Linked DNA regions of Homo sapiens: region 1 is linked to region 2. The links come from fine-mapping of genetic effects on gene expression. A gene starts in region 2. The other region holds a variant in brackets. All regions are shown on one strand. Distances are from middle to middle. Region 1 holds the start of LOC107986823 (a long non-coding RNA gene). Region 2 holds the start of PON2 (paraoxonase 2).

The links. PIP is the estimated chance that this variant, and not a neighbour inherited with it, causes the effect. A credible set is the group of variants that fine-mapping cannot tell apart.
Region 1: its variant is the best candidate, but not a certain one, in a credible set for the expression of PON2 in whole blood (TOPMed, PIP 0.72).

Annotation. Positions count from the first base shown.
Region 1 is chr7:95,467,632-95,473,017 of GRCh38, reverse strand. LOC107986823 (a long non-coding RNA gene) reads right to left here and starts at 2,206. Exons shown (of 3, transcript XR_001745286.2): 1 at 2,084-2,206; 2 at 956-1,863. It also overlaps a transcript of ASB4 not described here. RefSeq lists enhancers at 2,411-2,460, 1,369-2,568. The variant A/T (reference allele first, on the strand shown) is at 2,359.
Region 2 is chr7:95,432,273-95,437,658 of GRCh38, reverse strand. PON2 (paraoxonase 2) reads left to right here and starts at 2,631. Exons shown (of 9, transcript NM_000305.3): 1 at 2,631-2,781. The coding sequence starts at 2,708. RefSeq lists an enhancer at 2,274-2,844 and a silencer at 2,519-2,948.

The DNA.
Region 1 (5,386 bases), 35 kb before region 2:
ACTGGTGAGCAATCATTTATTCTACTGCCAAACTGCTGGAGCGTGGAGAGAGGAAATAGAGGATTTAGCAGTTTGGTTTCCTTGTACTGAGACAGTTTGATTTTTCTCTACAAGTTTTGGCAAATCTTAACTATAGCATGCCTAAATTATGCAAACACCGTGGGATGGGAAGTGCACGTTTCTGGGTGGACCAGAGCTGAAATGTTATACATAGACCTGTGTTGCTCCTGAGGAGTGCTCCTTGGGGCTAGCTGCAAATCCAGCTGAGGTTAACCGCGTTTTATCATACTGCAAAGAAGCTCCCTTGTAGTTAACCCTGCTGTGGAATTCAGAGCCTGTCCTGAGCCTTTTTGCTTGAGGCTATGCACGTGGACCTTGGCAGAGCATCATTAAAACCCCTATTAGTGAGAGTAGACTGCTTTTCCCTGTGAGGAAAAGTATTACATTGCAGTAAAATGCAAATCCACTAACAGGCAACTGCAGATTTATAGCACTGCAGTTCCACAGGAATCACAGGGAGATAGAACCTTGTTTCCCCCGGCAGATTGGAGTTACTAGTGTGTACAAATTGCCCAGAATTCCACACAGGACCAGGTACATAATTTGCAGGGCCCAGTGCAAAATGTTCAAATATTATTGAGATTTGTTCAAATAGTATTGAGATTTTCAAGATGGCGGCAACAGATCATTCGTCTAAGCATCTGGTCATTCTGAACACAGGGTCCTGTGCTACTGCCCAGATTCTATGTGTCATTGAAAAATGGCACTTTCAATTTTGGACACATTTTTGGGGAAAGAATGTAAGTGCAGATATAAACCTTGTTAACCCAATTCCTTCAGCCTGGGGACACCCACACATTGGTAGATAATCAAAATGGCATGAGCTACTGAGCCCCCACCTAGTGTCATTATTGATATTGTAAGTCCCCTCCCACCACCACACACACCCACTGACCTCCTTTTGCTGTGAGTATGAGGACACTCACACTCCTCCTCTGATCCTTATGTTTTTTTGCTTTGTATTCAGTAAGAAATGGAATAGCACAATACTTAAGCGTATAGACTCAATACTACTAGTAGTTGTGCACCCTTGGGCAAGTTATTTAACCTCTGTGTGGCTCGGTTTCTTCATCTGTTAAAAAAAGCAGATAATAATAGTACCTGCCTAAGAAAGCATAGTGTTAGCACACATAAAATACTTAGCATTGTCCCTGGCACATGGCAAATGCTCTGGAGGTGTTAGCTGGTATTAACCTGCTACCTTTGCCCCAGCTGCAGTCAACTCCACTGTTGCCACCACTGCTGTCCTCTAAAGTCCTAATGTTCATGTAAGGGCATTCCTTTATGAGAAAAGAGGGCATTAAGCTAGGACCTCAATTAAGGGCCAAAATTAGACAATTATTGTTTATTTCCAAATGAGTTTAGATACATACTGTCACAGAAGTACACTGACAGTGTTGGAAGAGCCTTCAACTCTCATACAAATATAATTGCTAATAGGTGTAAACATTTTAACTACAACAGAAACCTATTTTGACATGTCTTCATTTTAAAATATACCTGGAGTCTGGAAAAATAGAGGTGGCCTTAGCAGTGTGGAAGGTCCCTGAAGCAACCACTCTTGATCATCCTCATTTTTCCTTTAATTATAAGGGCAAGAACAGAATTCACATTGTTTTGCAAATGAGGAAGCGTGCAGGAAAGAGGACAATAGCAATGGCCCTGGAGCTCTGGGGAAGCAAACCTGACTCAGACACCAACTCTGTTTTCCATGGGGCAAGCCACATCATTTGAAGGGGACGTGCGTCTTTTTTCCTGTAGAATGCAGTTCATAATGAGGGTCCTCCCTAGGTCATGGTGCTGCTGGCAATTGTGCAGGATATGGACATTAGAAAACACACTTAGAAATGAGCCAAGGGGACAGAAAAATGAGAAACATTTTGAGGAAGCAAACAAGAACGAAATCAATATGGCATCAACTAAATCATTTCAGGCATCAAGGATGACTGAAAATGGAAATATGGAATAAAGTAGGAGTTGAATTTAGGGCTCTGAAGGAAAACAAAGTAAAAGTTAAACTTACTTTGTAAACAGGGAACCACCCGGAGAGTTATTATGTTAATTTCTTTCTCTTCTTTGGTGGTGGCTTAAAAGAATTTTGAATAAAACATGTAAGTATCTTTCCTAATGGGGGGAAAAAAGAAAACCCTACCTTTCATTTCAAATGAGTTAATGGATGGGACAGTGCCTTGAAAAGTCCTATTATGAAACCAGCCAGAGCATTATCAGCCTTTCTTCTTAGATTCAGTCGCCACAGCTGCCAGGCCTGTCCAAACAGCAAACAGGAAATGAGAAAGG[A/T]TCTGACACCACAGCTTCAGAGAGTTCTTACCGACCTCCTGGAGGTGTGGGGGCGGACAGAGAATCTTGAGCAAATATGTGTACTTTCCACTTTATTGATAAAAATATACTTTTATTGCACAAGATTTATCAAAGTGGCCCTGTCTACAAGTGTTTGTTCATTCTTTTAAAACATTTTTAATGGAAAAATTGCATTTTATTTGCTTAGATCTATGGATTAAGAGTTTTTTTTAAAAAAAGCATAAAAGTTCCTATTGCAGCAAATGATCAAAGAGAGCTGATTTCCTCCCATAGCTGTTCCTTCAGGTGTTTTTTATTCTGAAAGGTTATTTTCCTCTTCTTTTCAAAATGGTGCTCAGAATGAAAAGGCAATCTGTATTTAAATGTTTGCTTTATATTTCCTTTGTTATTCAAGAAATTGTGTGTGCCTGGACATTTAGTGTTCACATTACACTTATAAGAAAACTGGAACAAGTACTCTGAAACTGTATATCTGTAATTTGGGAGAATGTGTTTAAATTTAAAAAATAAAACTTTTTCCAGGAAGAGGCTCTATGCACAGTATCAGGATGGGGCTACTCCATTCAGAATCTGTTGCCATGGTGACCGACCTGGGAGCCTCGTGGGCTCTGTACAGGAGGCATGTGTGGTAATTATATAAGCTGAAGTGCTGTTGAATAACCCCAGGAAGGCAGGACTGCCACAGTGCAATTTCTCGGAAACCACTATTTAAAAATTCATACATCATAATGCCTTCTTCTTTTATATGAAAATCCGCCATTTAAGTATTTTTCTTACATCAATCTGATAAGACTGATATAACGGAAAATAGAACTTACTCAATTCTGAGCGTATAAAGTATGCCAAATGAGCTGCATTATATACTAACGAATTTATTTCCAATAACTTTATTTTTTATGAACGAGCAATGAACCAACAATTAAATGCATTACTGTTGTTCTCATAATAAGCCATATGACTTACTCCTTTTCTTTAATATGTAATATATAATAATTATAAAAGTATAAGTAGGCAATTGATTGAAACAATAAATCAATGCCATTTTTAATTGAATAAACAAGTGAAATTAGTTAAGCATGAAGTGCAATCAATACATATTTTCCGATAAAAAATGGAAAATTTTCTCATTCCTGTTCACATTTAACATTTTACATTGTCACATGTAGGTCACAGGCCACACTTGTAGGAGACAGATCATTACCTGACACATAGGAAATTGGTTTCTGGTGATGATGTAATGTTATTCTTTCATTCAACAAATTGTTATTGAATGAGGAAAACTAAATGTTTGATCTTAGCAAGTCTTTTTGCCTCCTCAGGCCTTCAGTTTCCTCATCTGAGGGCCTTTTGACCTCAAAAATTCTATCATTCCAGAACTCACAAGATAAAATTGTCTGCATGTCAGTTGTTTTATAATTTTACTTTGAAGCAACAGAACAACTGTTATGTACTGAGTGTATTCTAACACTGTGACAGACATTTAACTGATATTACCTGTAGCACTGTAAGGTAGACACTGCTTTCCCATTTAACAAATGAAGACACAACTTATATAATTTAAATCTGCCCAGCTCCAAACAAATGGAATGAACTTTGTATTGCCCCATGCTGCCCATACACTGGTGAAGAAACTTCAACTCTCTTACAGATAAATTATTTTTTGTACTGATAAAGAAATGGAAAGTATGATTGTACAACATGTTCAAAAACTCTAAGAGCACTGATTTTTTAAAATTTTTAAAGAACCCTGGAATCAAAGCAACAAAAGACTAAATTGAACTGTCACAAAACAGGGATTTCCAGATTCATCCAAAGGCAATGAGATGCAGAAAGTGGATGCTACTTATTGTAAGAACAATGCTAAAAACAGGACTTGGACATGCGTTTACTGCTCATTAGTACCCACTTACGTCTAGTCATACACAAGTGATTAATCATGGCTCTATGTCTGATCAATTGAATTTTGTACAAAATTAAATGACGGTTAAAAATAATCATTGTAATGAGCACTTAAAATGACAGATATGACTTAGTGCAGGGTTTCTTCATTAACTTGAGTGTTTTTCCTACTACTCTTCTGAAAGTGCTTTCTCTCTCCCTGTATTTGAAGATGTGGCTGATAATGATGTTACCATTCAGGTGTCCACATTTATTTGTGAAACCATTGTGCGTTCCACAAGCTCCCTCCATTACATGCATGGTCTTCTGTTCAGTGGTTTTACATACTTTTTACTGAATTAGTACTGGCCCTTTCCTGTTCTGTTCATAGAAGAGGCCCCCCCACATGCTTTACAAGTCAATGAATGCAATTTCTGCCTCTTTATCCTGGAGACTTTTTTGCCTCAAGTCTCAGTGTTATACCCCATCTTGGTTTTTGTTGTGTAAAAGAGTGGACTGATGACAGATTTCATTTCCCAGAATTTATTACCTATTGTGTATATTGCAGTTCATTCACAATGACTCCATCTGCATTTAGGTTGAATGGGGCCCCCCCCAACCCAATTTAATAAAAAAATAATGAGGCCACTCAAAGCTCATAGATGTGTCAGCACTATGAAAAGGCTCTATAATCAATGCAAATGTGATGTTTTCCTGCTTTGTGGAGCACAGAGGTTTGACACCCATCTCTTTTGCTGGATCAAATCAGGCTCCCTCTTTGCTTTGAGAATCTAATGAAAGGTATGGGCTCTCTTCTTCCCTCAAAAAAAAATGTATGTGGCTGCATAATTTATTGAAATGTTAATTGGTGAGTTGTTTCATGCTGGAGTTTTCCTCTCTCCTGCTCCAAGAATGTGGTCAAGCCTCTTGAGATGTGAATGGTGACCCTAAGGTTGTGCAGAGCATAGACTACAATCCATTTATGCAAGCCCCGCTGGAAAGTTCAGGAACCTTTGCACTGCCCACAGGTGGGGCTAGGAGAGTATCAGCAATGACTGAGCTTAGATTTTCTCCCATCCAAGACACAACGGTGGCTTGAGATCAAGTTAAATTTGATTTAAAATGTATT
Region 2 (5,386 bases):
TTGTGGAAAGACACGGTAGCCTGGCTCCTGACCCAGAATCCATGAGGCATAGTTGTATGTACTTCCCTTGGGGCCTAAGAGATTAAGAGAGAAGCCCAGACAATAGTCCAAGGCCCTCTGCTTTAGGTCTTTCTTCTAAATTCTGATTCTTTAATTTTTTTTTTTTGTTAATTTTAATTTTTTTTTTGTAGAGATGGGTTCTCCCTATGTTGCCCACAATGGTCTTGAACTCCCCGCTTCAAGTGATCCTCCCACCTGGGCCTTTCAAAGTGCTGAGATTATAGGCAAGAGCTACCTTGCCAGGCCTAAATTCTGATTTTGTATCTGAGGCTCTTCTCTTCCTCAATAATTGACACCAAAAATAGTCCTAGAAAGGAGATTCCACCCTTCTCTAAACAGTCATAGCCTTAGCCTATGTCAGAGTTCTTAACCCAGTGGTCCATTGATAGTTCAGAGGAATTAATGACCTTGGATAAGAAAAAAAAAATCTTGATTTCAAATGGAATTTAGCATTTTCTTCAATTACAAAACTAGCAGACAAACCTCAGAAGCATTTGCAGTACTTGTGACTGTTACTAATGGAAATAACAGTTATTTTCATTATTTCATTATAGTTGTTTTCAGTATCATGAAAGAACATTTGCACTCCTCTTTATTTAAAAGAATGTTGCTAGATCTTGTTATTTAATATGTTAAATAATGTTGCACACATTACATTACCACATTACTATAGCAAAAAATTATGTTTTAGATATTTTAACAATTACATTTCAATTGTTGACCTTTAATTTTAAAGCTAAGGCAAAATTAATGTAAGTAGAGAGTTTATTTGGGCCAAGTTTGAGTACTGCAACCCAGGAGTATAGATTCAAGTTTCCCTAAATATACACTCTGATTAGCAGCAGTTACACATAGATTTTTAAGGGGAAGGAAGAGGCAGTTCCTAAATTCCTTGCGTTAAAATAACATAAGCTGTGGATTGGTTATACTTTGTTCTTTGTATCATAAATTCCAGGAATATGAAGATAATGGGTGGGACAGCTACTCGGGAACAAAATGTCTTTAAACAACTGTCCCCAGGCATGGGTATTGGGGCGTGACTGAAGTCCCATACTCATGTCGCTCTGGGCCTGATAAATTTTGCATACCTCACAAAGCTCAGACTGCTCTCAGCTATTTTTTTTCCTTACAATGTAATTGATTTTCTTTGCAATCTATACATTTTATTCATTTATTTAAAATTTTTTTTTCTTCTTTCTTTTTTTCATGAACCGCACAGAGAAAATTTATGCATTTTATTGTAAGCATTTATAAACATTATTCTAAGAAGTTATCCACAGGCTCACCACTGCCAGAAGGGTCCACGACACAAAAAAGGTAATGCCTCATGGGCTTTCAAAGGACAACTTTTTACTTCTCTTTCTACCATCCAGTATAATCCAATATCCTTAGGACTGAAGCAGAGATACACACACACACAGGGAGAGAGGTGTTTGTGCTTTTTTTTTTTTTTTTTTTTTTTGGTGAGAGGCAGGTGGGAAATTGGCATCCACTTTTATTTACTGGTTCTTTATAAAACTGATATTTGTTGAAAATTGTCAAGTGTGACCATTTCTGCCTACATATTGTAGGGTGGCAATTAAATACCGAAAACCATTAGAAGCTTATTTCAGATGTACTCATTTATTGTAATGGTATCAATCTTGATGGGTAAATTTCATTTTACTTTTAAAATTGTATTTTAAATTATTCCTTCATGTTACGGTTGTTAGAGTAAAAACGGAAAAGAAAAAAACTACACTTCTTCCCTTTGAGTTTGGATGAAAAAGACGTGTCTAAGTCCTTAAGTCTGTAGTCTGGAAGTATTAATAGAGGCTGGGCATGGTGGCTCATTCCTGTAATTCTAGCACTTTGGGAGGCTGAGGCAGGAGGATGGCTTGAGTCCAGGAGTTTGAGACCAACCTGGGCAACACAGCAAGACTCGGTCTCCACACACACACACACAGACACACACACAACTTACACACACTTAGCTAGGTGTAACGGTACGTGCCTGCGGTCCCAGCTACTCAGGAGGCTGAGGCTGGAGGGTCCCTTGAGTCCGGGAGGTCCAGACTGCAGTGAGCTATGATTGTGCCAATGTACTCCAGCCTAGGCAACACAGCGAGACCCTGTTAAAAAAAAAAAAAAAAAGTATTACGAGGCACAGGATGTTTATTTATTCGCAACTACGTCCTGTTATAAAAAGTAGTGATTCCAACGTGAAATATTTACACGACGCATCCCGTTACTTTCCCTCCCTTGGCCACCGACCCCCATCCCCAAAAGCTGCTTTCTATGTAAGTTTCTCACTGGAATAGCGAGTGAGAAATGTGTTTGAAGACTAGGGAAACGAGAAAGGTATGCGGGCTGCTAGAGGGTTTCGGGTGGGTTGTTTGAAAAAGGAAGTGAAGGAATTCAAAGTTTCACATCATGAGCCTAATGTAAGGCGTGTCCGGGCCGTCCCGAAGGTATCTGGGGAAATAGGTTTGTGAGGACAAAGACCAGGGCCAGGCCCAGGGCGGAGCCTCCGCGGCCCCGACGCAGGGACTCGGCCTAGGCGGAGGACGGGGCGGAGCGCGGCCGGCACCATCGAGCCGGGAAGATGGCACCGCCCACGGAGCTGCTGGCCAGGCCGGAGCGAGGCAGCGCGCCCGGCTCCCGCGCCATGGGGCGGCTGGTGGCTGTGGGCTTGCTGGGGATCGCGCTGGCGCTCCTGGGCGAGAGGCTTCTGGCACTCAGGTAGGTGGGACTCCCGCGCGCCCCTCCTCGGCGGTCCCCAGGCTCGGGGTGGCCGCGTGGTGCGGGGAGGGCGCAGGCTGGGGGAGGGATTCCTGCGGGACCTGGCCCTGCGGCCGGGGGTGGAGAATTTTTGAATGCTGTCCCTCCCCCAGCTAGTTGAACCCCCATCACCCCGACTCTCCGCTTCTAGTGAAAAAACTAGCAAAGTTTGGAGTGAATCGCGACACTTTCTTGAAAGTTTATAAGCCCTTGCTGCTAACAAAGTTCTCTTCTGCTTAGGCTGACAAGAGAATGCTTTGCAATTACCCAAGGGCCAAACTAGTGGTTTAAATTGAAAACAAAATGACTACTCATGCATTGAAACCTTAACTATGAAGATTTATTTCAGGTCATTGGTGCTGTTTCTCCTTGTTGCCCAAACCAGACCCGTCTTTAATAAAGTTGTTCTCCACCCATTTCTGCATAGTTTGAGAAACTCTTCAGCTGTAGATCAAAGACACTTGAAATATTCAGCTACTGTTCTTACTTCCTATTTATTCACCAGGGAAGCCTGAAGCCAGAATGCCAGACAGCGCAGACACTATTCCATCTCGCATTTTAGTTTTAATGAAAATCTCTGGTAGGTAGACATCATCGTTTATAAATTACCAACTCAACGTTTGTTTTTTGTTTATTTTATTTTTTGTAGAGATGGGGTCTTGCTGTATTGCCCAGGCTGTTCCCTAACTCTTGCACTCAAGCAATCCTCCAGCCTAGGCCTCCCCACAGTGCTGGGATTACAGGTGTGAGCTGTTCTGCCCTGCCTCAACCAAAATTTTATAGGCCTCATGCAAAAGAGTTCCAGAAAGACTGAGCACCTGCTATGTGTAATGTTCTCTCTTAGGCTTCTATAGTAGAGTACGACCCTTATGGAGTTTGATACAGGGGAAGAGAGAATTAAAATACAGTAAATGTATAAATTAGGATGTTCTAAGGACAGACACAAATGAACCGCATAGGCTTAAAGAGGAAAGATTCCATCCCCTGAGGGTGGAGTTCTAGAGGGAGGAAGAGACATTCGACCTGACCTTGAAGGGTGGGTGCAACACATATGAGCATGAAGGGGCCCATGCCAAATGTATAGTGCAGCAGGAGCAAAGGGGCTAAGGTGGGAAGTTGGAAGACTAGCAAATGGGCCAATTTGAAGGGAGCATAAAGTCAGGAGATGAGAATAGTAGGGTGGTGGGAAGGATAGGTTTTGAGGCCATTAAATATAAGTTGAAAAATGGGGCCCCACTTTCATAGGCCCAATAGTGCTTCAAAAGGGAAATATTGGTGGGTTTTGCTTTTCAACAAGAACTTAATATAACTAGTTGTGTTTTATAGAGATAAGCCTGGAAGGGGGGATTGGAGGAGAGCAATGGTTCTCTGTACATTAGAATCTCCTGGAGGGCTGGTGTCTGAGTGGCACCACCAAAGATTCTGATTCAGCTGTTCTGGATCAGAATCTACAGCTCACACCTGTAATCCCAGCACTGTTGGAGGCCTAAGCCAGAAGATTGCTTGAGCCCAGGAGTTAGTGACAGGCCTGGGCAACATAGCAAGATCCCACCTCTACAAAATGAATAAATAAATAAATAAATAAATAAAAAACAAAATTTGAGTTGGTAATTTATAAACTATGGTGTCTACCTACCAGAGATTTTTCGTTATAATTAAAATGTGATATGGAATAATGTATTGTTTGGCAAGCTGGCTTCAGGGTTCCCAGGTAAATAGATAAATAAGGAAGTGCATAATGTAAGAACAGTGGCTGACAGTAGCAGTGGCATTTTTTATTTTTAAAAACATTCCTGATAATTCTAATGAGCAGTCAAGGTCGAGAACTACTAGAATAGAGAGCAGACATGGGGTAACTGGTTAAGGTATTGCAGTAGGTCAGAGAGGATAACAGGGACCCAAACTCTGGAACCCCAGGGATGAGGGAGAAGTCAAAGGTGCTACCAGAGTTTGTGCCACAGCTCCACTGTCCCATGGTTGTAGTTTCATCTACTGATAAAGCAGTGCAAAGAGGAAGCGTGTGGTGGCTGAGATGGGAGTGAGATTTGAGGAAAGAACGCTTATGGGTAGGAAATGGACATGTTGACCTTAATTTTCATGTTAGGTAATGCCCATTGTGCTCTACAGAACATTCATGAGTTGGATGACTTTGTATATGATCTGTCCTGCTCTCCATTTCAAAGGCAAGACCACCAAAATTCACAAGCTTATTATGTTGTCACTAATGTGTAAGCCACCAGTTTTTCTGCAAGTTGGAAGTTTTCTCAACAGTCAAATATTCCCCCTTCTCACTAATCTTAAGGTTTTAAAGTTATAGCTGCAAATCTAAAAAAAAAAGAAAAAGTAAATAAAACTTATTGACAGAATGCCTGATAGTTTATTTACAGGTTTTTGTTTGTTTGTTTTTTGTTTTTCTTTGTTTTTTATTTTGACACAAGGTCTTGCTCTGCCGCCCAAGCCAGAGTACAGTGGTACATCAAAGCTCACTGCAATCTCAAACACCTAGGCACAAGCAGTCCTCCCTCCTCAGCCTCCTGAGTAGCTGGGACTACAGATGCATGCTACC